Homo sapiens: one gene and its partners. The protein of the gene in region 3 interacts with the protein of the main gene of each other region in a pairwise test. Each region holds a gene or a part of one and is shown on either strand. Other genes may lie near its edges. The genes, in order: ATP13A2, PTPN11 and CCKBR.

Region 1 (3,658 bases), on a different chromosome or scaffold from region 3:
AGACGGGGTTTCACCATATTGGCCAGGCTGGTCTTGAACTCCTGACCTCATGATCCACCCGCCTCGGCCTCCCGAAGTGCCGGGATTCCAGGCATGAGCCACTGCGCTGGGCCCCCTCCCCAGTTTAAAAGCGCTCTGTGGCCCCCGACAGCCTCTGAATGTCACCTAGCCTCTGTCAACCAGGCCACTGCCTACCCGGCCCTGTCCTGCTCCACCACTCCCTGTGCTCAGGTACGCAGCACATCTGTGCCACGCCACTCCCTGTGCCCCAGGCACACGGTACATCTGTGCTATGACACTCCCACCTTTTACCCTTGCTTCTCCTCGACCTGCCCCTCACTGAGGTCACTGAGGGACCTGCTCAGGGGGCTTCCTTGACTGCCTTCTCTCTAAGGAAGTGTCCCCATCTAGAACCCATCAAGCTATCCCACTGGCTTCCTTCCTAAAACCCACTGCCCACTCCTCAGCCCCAGCAGCTCCTTTGTGCACTCCTGGATCACTTACTTTGGTGGGGGACACACACACTCCAGTGACCACAAGGATGCCTGTGTTGGTCACTGCTGGGCCCCAAGGGTTGGGAGCAGCACGGGATGCACACTAGGGCCCCAGGTCCCCACCAGTAATTTTTTTTTTTTTTTGAGTTTTGCTCTGTCACCCAGGCTGGAGTACAATGGCATGATCTTGGCTCACTGCAACCTCTGCGATTCTCCTGCCTCAGCCTCCCGAGTAGCTGGGATTACAAGCATGTGCCATCATGCCTGGCTAACTTTTGTATTTTTAGTAGACGGGGTTTTGCCATGTTGGTCAGGCTGGTCTTGAACTCCTGACCTCAAGTGATGTATCTGCCTCAGCCTCCCAAAGTGCTGGGATTACAGACGTGAGCCACCGCGCCCGGCCCCCCACCAGTTCTTGAACACATGAATACATGATTCTAGACATTTCATCTGCCAGACCGTGAGCCCAGTGAGGGCAGGAGTGGGATGGGGTGGATCCTCTGGGGGTTTCCATCCCTAGACAGGACCTGGCATCCTGTGGGTGCTGCTGAGAGAATAACGCGGGTGTGGAGGCCTCACTGGGGCGCCTGTGGCTGTCCCGCTCCCCTGCACCAACCCCACCTGCGGCCCCACCTTGTCGAAACACACCAGCTGCAGCTTGCCCCCCAGGTTGATGCGCAGTGGGTGGATGCAGAAAATGCCCTGTCTCCGCAGTCGGCTCTGGGCGTAGAGCGTGCACACAGTCATGGCAGCAGGCAGGGCAGGTGGCACCACCACGGTCACCAGGTCGAGAGCCCGGATTACAATCTCATTCAGAGGCACCTGGCAGGGGGCACCATGAATGTGAGCACCTGGCTGGTTGGCCCCTGGGCCCTGCTGGCAGCACCCCCCACCCCACCCCCAAGGCTTACCCGGTTTCGGTAGAGGATGAAGATGCTGTAGATGGTGCCGAGGAGAGCTGTGGGGACAGCGAAGGACTGAGTGGGATTTGGGACCCAGGTGGGGGGGGCTATGGGCAGAGGAGGGTGCAGGGGGCCACTCACCCAGGACAGAGAGGGCAGCCACAAACTTCATGCTGTGTTTATAGAACTTGAAGTTGATGGGCCGGGGGTGCAAGATGGAGCTCACCAGGCCCCCTTTTGCCGTGCAGAACCCTGGGGAGGAGGCGGGGACCCCAAGGCAGGGAAGCCAGGGTGAGGGCAGGCCTTCCCCACCCCTAGCCCTCCCGACCCGTGCCTCTGGAGTTGCAAGACATGATGTTTGTGAAATTAGCCATCAGCAGTGTGGAGTCCTAACAGGTCTGGCCCGGCTCTTGTAGGCTTTTTAAGGGCTTTAAACAAGGAACTAGTGGATAGCATCTAAACACTGGGTGGTTCCACTGAAAATCCAGACACAGGGAAGGCTCCTGCCTGCCCGCTACATCCCTGCCCGCTCCAGCACTGTAACCCCGGCGGCTCCTCCAGATCTTGCAATGCTTGGCCTTAGTCTGGCCCAACTTCTGCTAAGATGGGAATGCTCAGACCCCAGATGGGGGGCAACTGGCCCGAGGTCCCACAGCAGGGCAGCAGCAGAGGTGGGCGTGGGGTCCAGGGTTCCAGGTCCCACCCTGCCTCACTCCACCTCTCCCAAGGGTGCTGAGCCCGGGATCTCTCTCAAGCCCAGCCTCCCGGCTCATACCTGTGCGGGTCACCACTGCCAGGACGTGCGGTCCCACATAGGCCCGGGCCTGCAAGATGAGGGTCCCGCAGAAGAGTGTGTGCCGCCGGTGTGTCTCTGCACAGTAGGGCCCCAGCCCCTCCGGCAGTGCCGTCTTCAGCACTGGAATGCTCTCTCCTGGTGGGGAACGTGGTGTGAGGACCACTCCACACCCCTCCCTCCCACCAGCAAACCAGGAGTTCTGTGTAGAATTGTCCCACAAGCTCTAAGTCTCAGTTAACTCTGTAACCAGGTGTGAACAAGAAATCACAGCCCCATTTTACAGAGAGGAACACTGAGGCTCAGAGAGGACGGAGATATAAAGGCACAGGGAGACACTCCTGGAAGCAGGTGGCAGCCAGCTCCCTGGAACCAGCGGGGGGGGGTGGGTCAGACAGAGCATGTGTGGGCATCATGTGTGCAGTGGGGCAGGGTGGGGGAGTCGTTCTCTTTCTGCTGGAATTATTTTATAACATGCATGGAGTGCTTTTCTAACTCCAACCAACAGAAATATTTACAAGGGGCCAGATGCGGTGGCTCACGCCTGTAATCCCAACACTTTGGGAGGCTGAGGTGGGCAGATCACTTGAGGCCAGGAGTTCGGGACCAGGCTGGCCAACATGGTGAAACCCTGTCTCTACTAAAATACAAAAATTAGCCGGGTGTTGTGGTGGGCATCTGTAATCCCAGCTACTTGGGAGGCTAAGGCAGGGTAATAACTTGAACCAGAGAGGCGGAGGTTGCAGTGAGCCGAGATCGTGCCACTGCACTCCAGCCTGGACAACAGAGTGAAACTCTGTCTCAAAAGAGGAGGGGAGGGGAGGGGATGGGGTAAGGAAGGGGAGGGGGAAGGAGGAGGGGGAGGGGAGAGAAATATTTACATGGAGGGGGCAAATATTTCCATGAGTTGGAGTGAGAAAAGCACTGCATGCTCGCCATGGCCCTGTGAAGTCCTGGGCAGGCTGCCTAGCAAACAGTGGCACTCCCTTACTGAATGCCTGCAGGCTGGGACTATTGAGCACCTACTGTGTGCACATTCCTGCAAGGGAGTCAGACAATCCTGCCATGTCTGCCTCACAAGAGATGAGCAGATGAAGTATGTGTGGACAGTTTGTGGAGGGCAGGGCTCAGGGCGTGTGCCCACAAATCATACTGATCACAATTACTACTTTTTTTTTGTTTTCTGAGACGGAGTCTTACTCTGTCACCCAGGCTGGAGTGCAGTGGTGCGATCTCGGCTCACTGCAACCTCCACCTCCTAGGCTCAAACGATCCTCCCACCTCAGCCTCCCAAGTACCTGGGACGATAGACGTGCACCACTACACCTGGCTAATTTTTTGTATTTTTGGTAGAGATGGGGTTTCAACATGATTTCCAGGCTGTTTTCGAACTCCTCACCTCAGGCAATCCACCCACCTCTGCCTGCCAAAGTGTTGGGATTACAGGTGCGAGCCACTGCGCCTGGCCT
Region 2 (2,394 bases), on a different chromosome or scaffold from region 3:
TGATTGTACAAATATATCTTCTGCATTAACATCTCTGCCTGTTGCTTAAGATCAGTTGCTTTTATACTCAGAATGGAAATACCTGATCTTGGCTAGTTTTGTTATAAGATATTGATTTCATTTAGATTTCCCTCCACGAGGTCAGCAAACTATCATGTTCTTATGTAAACTTAGGCCAAGGCCAGAGTTATCATAGTCCCTAGGTTGCTACGGCTTATCATGTGCTTGGTAAAAGGTGATCGCAGGTTCTCAGACGAGTTTACTTTACATGAGATGGAATCAGGCAGAGAGGCTGGGATGATGGAGAAAGCTCGAGGTGAAGTTTTAAAAAAAAAGTTGTGGAAAGGAAAGTTCCAAAGAGGTGGTTTCTGAGGAAGTCAGAGCGCCCAGGGCCAGAGCAGTCAGTAATGGGTGAATGAGGTTGTTTGGAAAGTCGGTGTGACAGACACATGGATGCCATCTACTTCTAGGTTGCTGGTGGGTATTAAATATGCACAATATTCCATAGCTCACTGAGGATTTTAAAATTATAAGCATAGGATTTTATATTTTGGGGTGAAAGAATTATCTGGCACATTAGGTATTGGAGTTTAAAAAAAAAGCCAAATTTCACAGTCTTAATAACTTTTTTTAAAAAAAACTAAAAGGCGCTTCATGTCCAGTGTGTGGCCCTTCTGAAACTTATGGTCATCTCTCCCACTGAAACCAAGGTCTTTTCAAATGTGGCTAAATGGGGATGAGGAGACACGGGTAGGACTTTCTTGGTGTGTGTGCATTCTTTAAAGAGCCAAGTTGCTTCGGGGAAACAGCCAGGAAAATGGTCAAGATTATTTTTAGAGGTTATTTTATTGGGGATTTTAAGAACTAATAACATCTTGAGTTATTTTTAATTCAGGGGGATGTGGAAAGGTTTGCAATTGTCAAGTGTTTTGTTGTAGCTTAGTATCCATAAGGGAAACTTAGACTATAGACATAACTACAAAGCCAGTGCAGCTTTTGTTTTCTGTATGTTGTTGGGGGATCAACTTTCACACATAGCAAGCACATGGCCTCCCTGATGTCAGGATGCCTTTGTTAGGATCTGTATTTGCCCTTAATTTTGTTGAAATCTTTTTTCCTTCTTCCTCTTGAAAAGTTCCAAAATATAGTTTATTGTATCTTTCATCACTAAAAATTTGTTCCTTTTTCACTATGGGCAGTTCACACAAGGCAAAAACTATTGAACAGTTGGTTTTAGTGTGTTGTATAACTTTGCTGTATATCAAACTAATTTTGACAAGTTTTCATCCTAAGCCTCAAATCATGTAATTAATAATTTGCCTGTTTATTTATGACCTAATTGTGATTCTTTTATTAATAAAAGCTAATGGGAAAAGGATCCCTGATTAAGCTGATGACTAGACCTACAATTAATTTTCCTGCAGTATATGAAGTATTGTACCAGAGTATTAAAAGATATGTAATATTTTATTGATAAATCTATCCTTTAAAAGGAATACGTTTTAGGATGTCATCATTTTGATGTGAATCATGTAAATGTTGATAATATGCTGTTTATTATACATTTAGTGTTTCAAGAGATTCACTTAATTGCCTTTTTGCCCACGTATATTATGTAGTCTATTTGCAACTGTTCTTAAAAAAATGACATTAAAAGAATAGTTTATGTAGAGAAACATTAGTGGATGTTAATTGTCTCCCCACCTATATTTATGGGTGTTAGCGCAACTGCTTTGCTAGTTGCAAAGCTGTATTATCAGAGTAAAAGTGTATTTGTAAACTGTATGGGAACTAAAAATTAGGAATAAAACCATTTTCTTATATGATGGCATTTGTCGTTTGCTTCATCAGAAATGTCCAGGAAAAAAATGGGATTATTGGTCACTCCACCTCTCACACTGGCAAAATACTGACATTTAGCAGCTCTTATCTAGAAGTGACTTGGAACATAGAATAAAGGCATGAGTTCCTGAAGAATTCATTGAGTGTTTCCTGTAGAAATAGCTTTAGGAGATAGGGAGTTCTATCTGGGAGAACATATGAGTAACTCAAGAGTAAAAAGTATAGTCTGTGTAAACTATAGAAGAAATGCTGGGCATGGTGGCGCGCCCCTGTAATCTCAGCTACTTGGAGGCTGAGACGGGAGGATTCCTTGAACCCAGGAGCCCAGGAGTTTTAGACCAGTCTGGGTAACATAGTGAGACCCTTTCTCACCTACTCTCACTGCATGCCCCCCAAAAATATATATGTGCGCGCACGCGCGCGCACACACACATACACACACACACACACACACACACACACAGAGGAAATTGTTAGAAAACACACAGAACTGAATGTAAATAGTATTAGGTGGGAATAAGAAGTAAAGGGATGGTAAGGAGGCTTGGAGGA
Region 3 (2,948 bases):
CTGTGGCTTGCATGCCCTTCACCCTCCTGCCCAATCTCATGGGCACATTCATCTTTGGCACCGTCATCTGCAAGGCGGTTTCCTACCTCATGGGTGGGTGAGACAACCACCCCACCCCCACTTGCCACTCTCCCCGCCTAAAGCTCTTGTGGATGTAGGGGTCTTCCCCGGTTGGCAGGGAGGGGTGTGAGGAAGTCCCACTGATGCTTGTGTAGTGCAAGTTTCCTAGGTGACTCCTTCCTTTCTCTTCCCTTGTTTAGGGGTGTCTGTGAGTGTGTCCACGCTAAGCCTCGTGGCCATCGCACTGGAGCGGTACAGCGCCATCTGCCGACCACTGCAGGCACGAGTGTGGCAGACGCGCTCCCACGCGGCTCGCGTGATTGTAGCCACGTGGCTGCTGTCCGGACTACTCATGGTGCCCTACCCCGTGTACACTGTCGTGCAACCAGTGGGGCCTCGTGTGCTGCAGTGCGTGCATCGCTGGCCCAGTGCGCGGGTCCGCCAGACCTGGTGAGCTTGCCCATAAACTATCCTAGGAATTCCTTTCTCACCCCTATTAGATGCTTACGACCATTGCCCAGAATCTTCCTCCAGCTTCCCGGAGAATTACCACGCCAACTCCTATTCTGCATCCACCACCCTGGAGTTCCAGTTTGGGGCCCCTCCCCAGTTCTCTCTCCCTTCCCAGCGGCACCCCCAAATCCTACTCCTACTTCAGGTACCTGGCCACAGCCCTAGAAACACTAGTCCTTGGCTTTTTCTCCATCTGTGATTACAGCTGGACAGAAACCCGAGTGATCTGTCTGTGTTGCCTTCAGGTCCGTACTGCTGCTTCTGCTCTTGTTCTTCATCCCGGGTGTGGTTATGGCCGTGGCCTACGGGCTTATCTCTCGCGAGCTCTACTTAGGGCTTCGCTTTGACGGCGACAGTGACAGCGACAGCCAAAGCAGGGTCCGAAACCAAGGCGGGCTGCCAGGTGGGGCTGGACCACGTGAGCAAAATCTGGGCGAGGCGGAGCTTTGGAGGGCGACGGGGCCTGCTGGAGTGGGTGGGACTGAAATGAAGGTGAGGGTGAGAAGGAAGCTGGAAATGGAGTTGAGCTGGGAGCGGAGGTCAGGTGGGGACTGGGCTGGAGACTGGGGGGACTCGCCTTTTTCTCTGACCGCCCACCCTTTGTGCTCAGGGGCTGTTCACCAGAACGGGCGTTGCCGGCCTGAGACTGGCGCGGTTGGCGAAGACAGCGATGGCTGCTACGTGCAACTTCCACGTTCCCGGCCTGCCCTGGAGCTGACGGCGCTGACGGCTCCTGGGCCGGGATCCGGCTCCCGGCCCACCCAGGCCAAGCTGCTGGCTAAGAAGCGCGTGGTGCGAATGTTGCTGGTGATCGTTGTGCTTTTTTTTCTGTGTTGGTTGCCAGTTTATAGTGCCAACACGTGGCGCGCCTTTGATGGCCCGGGTGCACACCGAGCACTCTCGGGTGCTCCTATCTCCTTCATTCACTTGCTGAGCTACGCCTCGGCCTGTGTCAACCCCCTGGTCTACTGCTTCATGCACCGTCGCTTTCGCCAGGCCTGCCTGGAAACTTGCGCTCGCTGCTGCCCCCGGCCTCCACGAGCTCGCCCCAGGGCTCTTCCCGATGAGGACCCTCCCACTCCCTCCATTGCTTCGCTGTCCAGGCTTAGCTACACCACCATCAGCACACTGGGCCCTGGCTGAGGAGTAGAGGGGCCGTGGGGGTTGAGGCAGGGCAAATGACATGCACTGACCCTTCCAGACATACGAAACACAAACCACAACTGACACAGGAAACCAACACCCAAAGCATGGACTAACCCCAACGCACAGGAAAAGGTAGCTTACCTGACACAAGAGGAATAAGAATGGAGCAGTACATGGGAAAGGAGGCATGCCTCTGATATGGGACTGAGCCTGGCCCATAGAAACATGACACTGACCTTGGAGAGACACAGCGTCCCTAGCAGTGAACTATTTCTACACAGTGGGAACTCTGACAAGGGCTGACCTGCCTCTCACACACATAGATTAATGGCACTGATTGTTTTAGAGACTATGGAGCCTGGCACAGGACTGATTCTGGGATGCTCCTAGTTTGACCTCACAGTGACCCTTCCCAATCAGCACTGAAAATACCATCAGGCCTAATCTCATACCTCTGACCAACAGGCTGTTCTGCACTGAAAAGGTTCTTCATCCCTTTCCAGTTAAGGACCGTGGCCCTGCCCTCTCCTTCCTTACCCAAACTGTTCAAGAAATAATAAATTGTTTGGCTTCCTCCTGAACTTCCTTTCTGGATTCTTCTGGGGCAGGTGAGGAGGCATAGGATTTTGCAGTATCCTTCTGTCGGGTCTCTCCCACTGTTGCACACTGCTGTGCACAACCCCTTGCCAGAAAGCCCAGCCTCTGAGGTTCAGCGTGGCTGTGCATATTCTTTCTGAGTTTTCATCCTCTACCTACATTCCAATGTTGCAATAACTGTGAATGGGGATGGAAAATGGCATATCCATGACATATCATGATTCCTGATCACATTATCCCAAAGTGGTGCCACTGTTAAGGTACTATATTAATGGATGCTTATTAAATTTTGATGAAAAGATAAAAGAGGAAGCACTGTATAATAAGACTAAGTTTATTCAATGTGTGTTTGAAACACCAGAGATCAGACCATGACAGGTATACAGAATGAATACAGTTAATTAAAGAGTAGGGATTTTTTGCTGTACTCTCTTCCCCAGTGTCAAAACCTGGCCAAGATTCTGCCAAATGGAAGCACTTTTAGTAGCTACAACAAAAAAAGACCTGAATAGGAGTCTGAGAACCCAGTCTCCCTTTTACTATAAGAATGATCTAGCCCCAGAGACAGGCAAAGACCAACAATATCACCTCTTTACACACAATGACAAATGAGGAAGAACAGGAACTGAGGA

The links.
Region 1: the proteins of CCKBR (region 3) and ATP13A2 interact in a two-hybrid assay, tested with the Homo sapiens proteins (one study listed by BioGRID and IntAct).
Region 2: the proteins of CCKBR (region 3) and PTPN11 interact in binary tests that used the Homo sapiens proteins (3 or more experiments, as listed by UniProt).

Annotation. Positions count from the first base shown.
Region 1 is NC_000001.11:16,994,849-16,998,506, forward strand, and holds part of ATP13A2 (polyamine-transporting ATPase 13A2), read right to left. Parts: intron 2,328-3,658; coding exon 2,172-2,327; intron 1,649-2,171; coding exon 1,538-1,648; intron 1,453-1,537; coding exon 1,406-1,452; intron 1,317-1,405; coding exon 1,128-1,316; intron 1-1,127. UniProt on the Homo sapiens protein: ATPase which acts as a lysosomal polyamine exporter with high affinity for spermine. Also stimulates cellular uptake of polyamines and protects against polyamine toxicity.
Region 2 is NC_000012.12:112,508,088-112,510,481, forward strand, and holds the end of PTPN11 (tyrosine-protein phosphatase non-receptor type 11), read left to right. Parts: 3' UTR 1-1,831; downstream 1,832-2,394. UniProt on the Homo sapiens protein: Acts downstream of various receptor and cytoplasmic protein tyrosine kinases to participate in the signal transduction from the cell surface to the nucleus. Positively regulates MAPK signal transduction pathway. Dephosphorylates GAB1, ARHGAP35 and EGFR.
Region 3 is NC_000011.10:6,269,828-6,272,775, forward strand, and holds the end of CCKBR (gastrin/cholecystokinin type B receptor), read left to right. Parts: coding exon 1-93; intron 94-260; coding exon 261-510; intron 511-818; coding exon 819-976; coding exon of another isoform or gene 977-1,183; coding exon 1,184-1,716; 3' UTR 1,717-2,300; downstream 2,301-2,948. UniProt on the Homo sapiens protein: Receptor for gastrin and cholecystokinin. The CCK-B receptors occur throughout the central nervous system where they modulate anxiety, analgesia, arousal, and neuroleptic activity.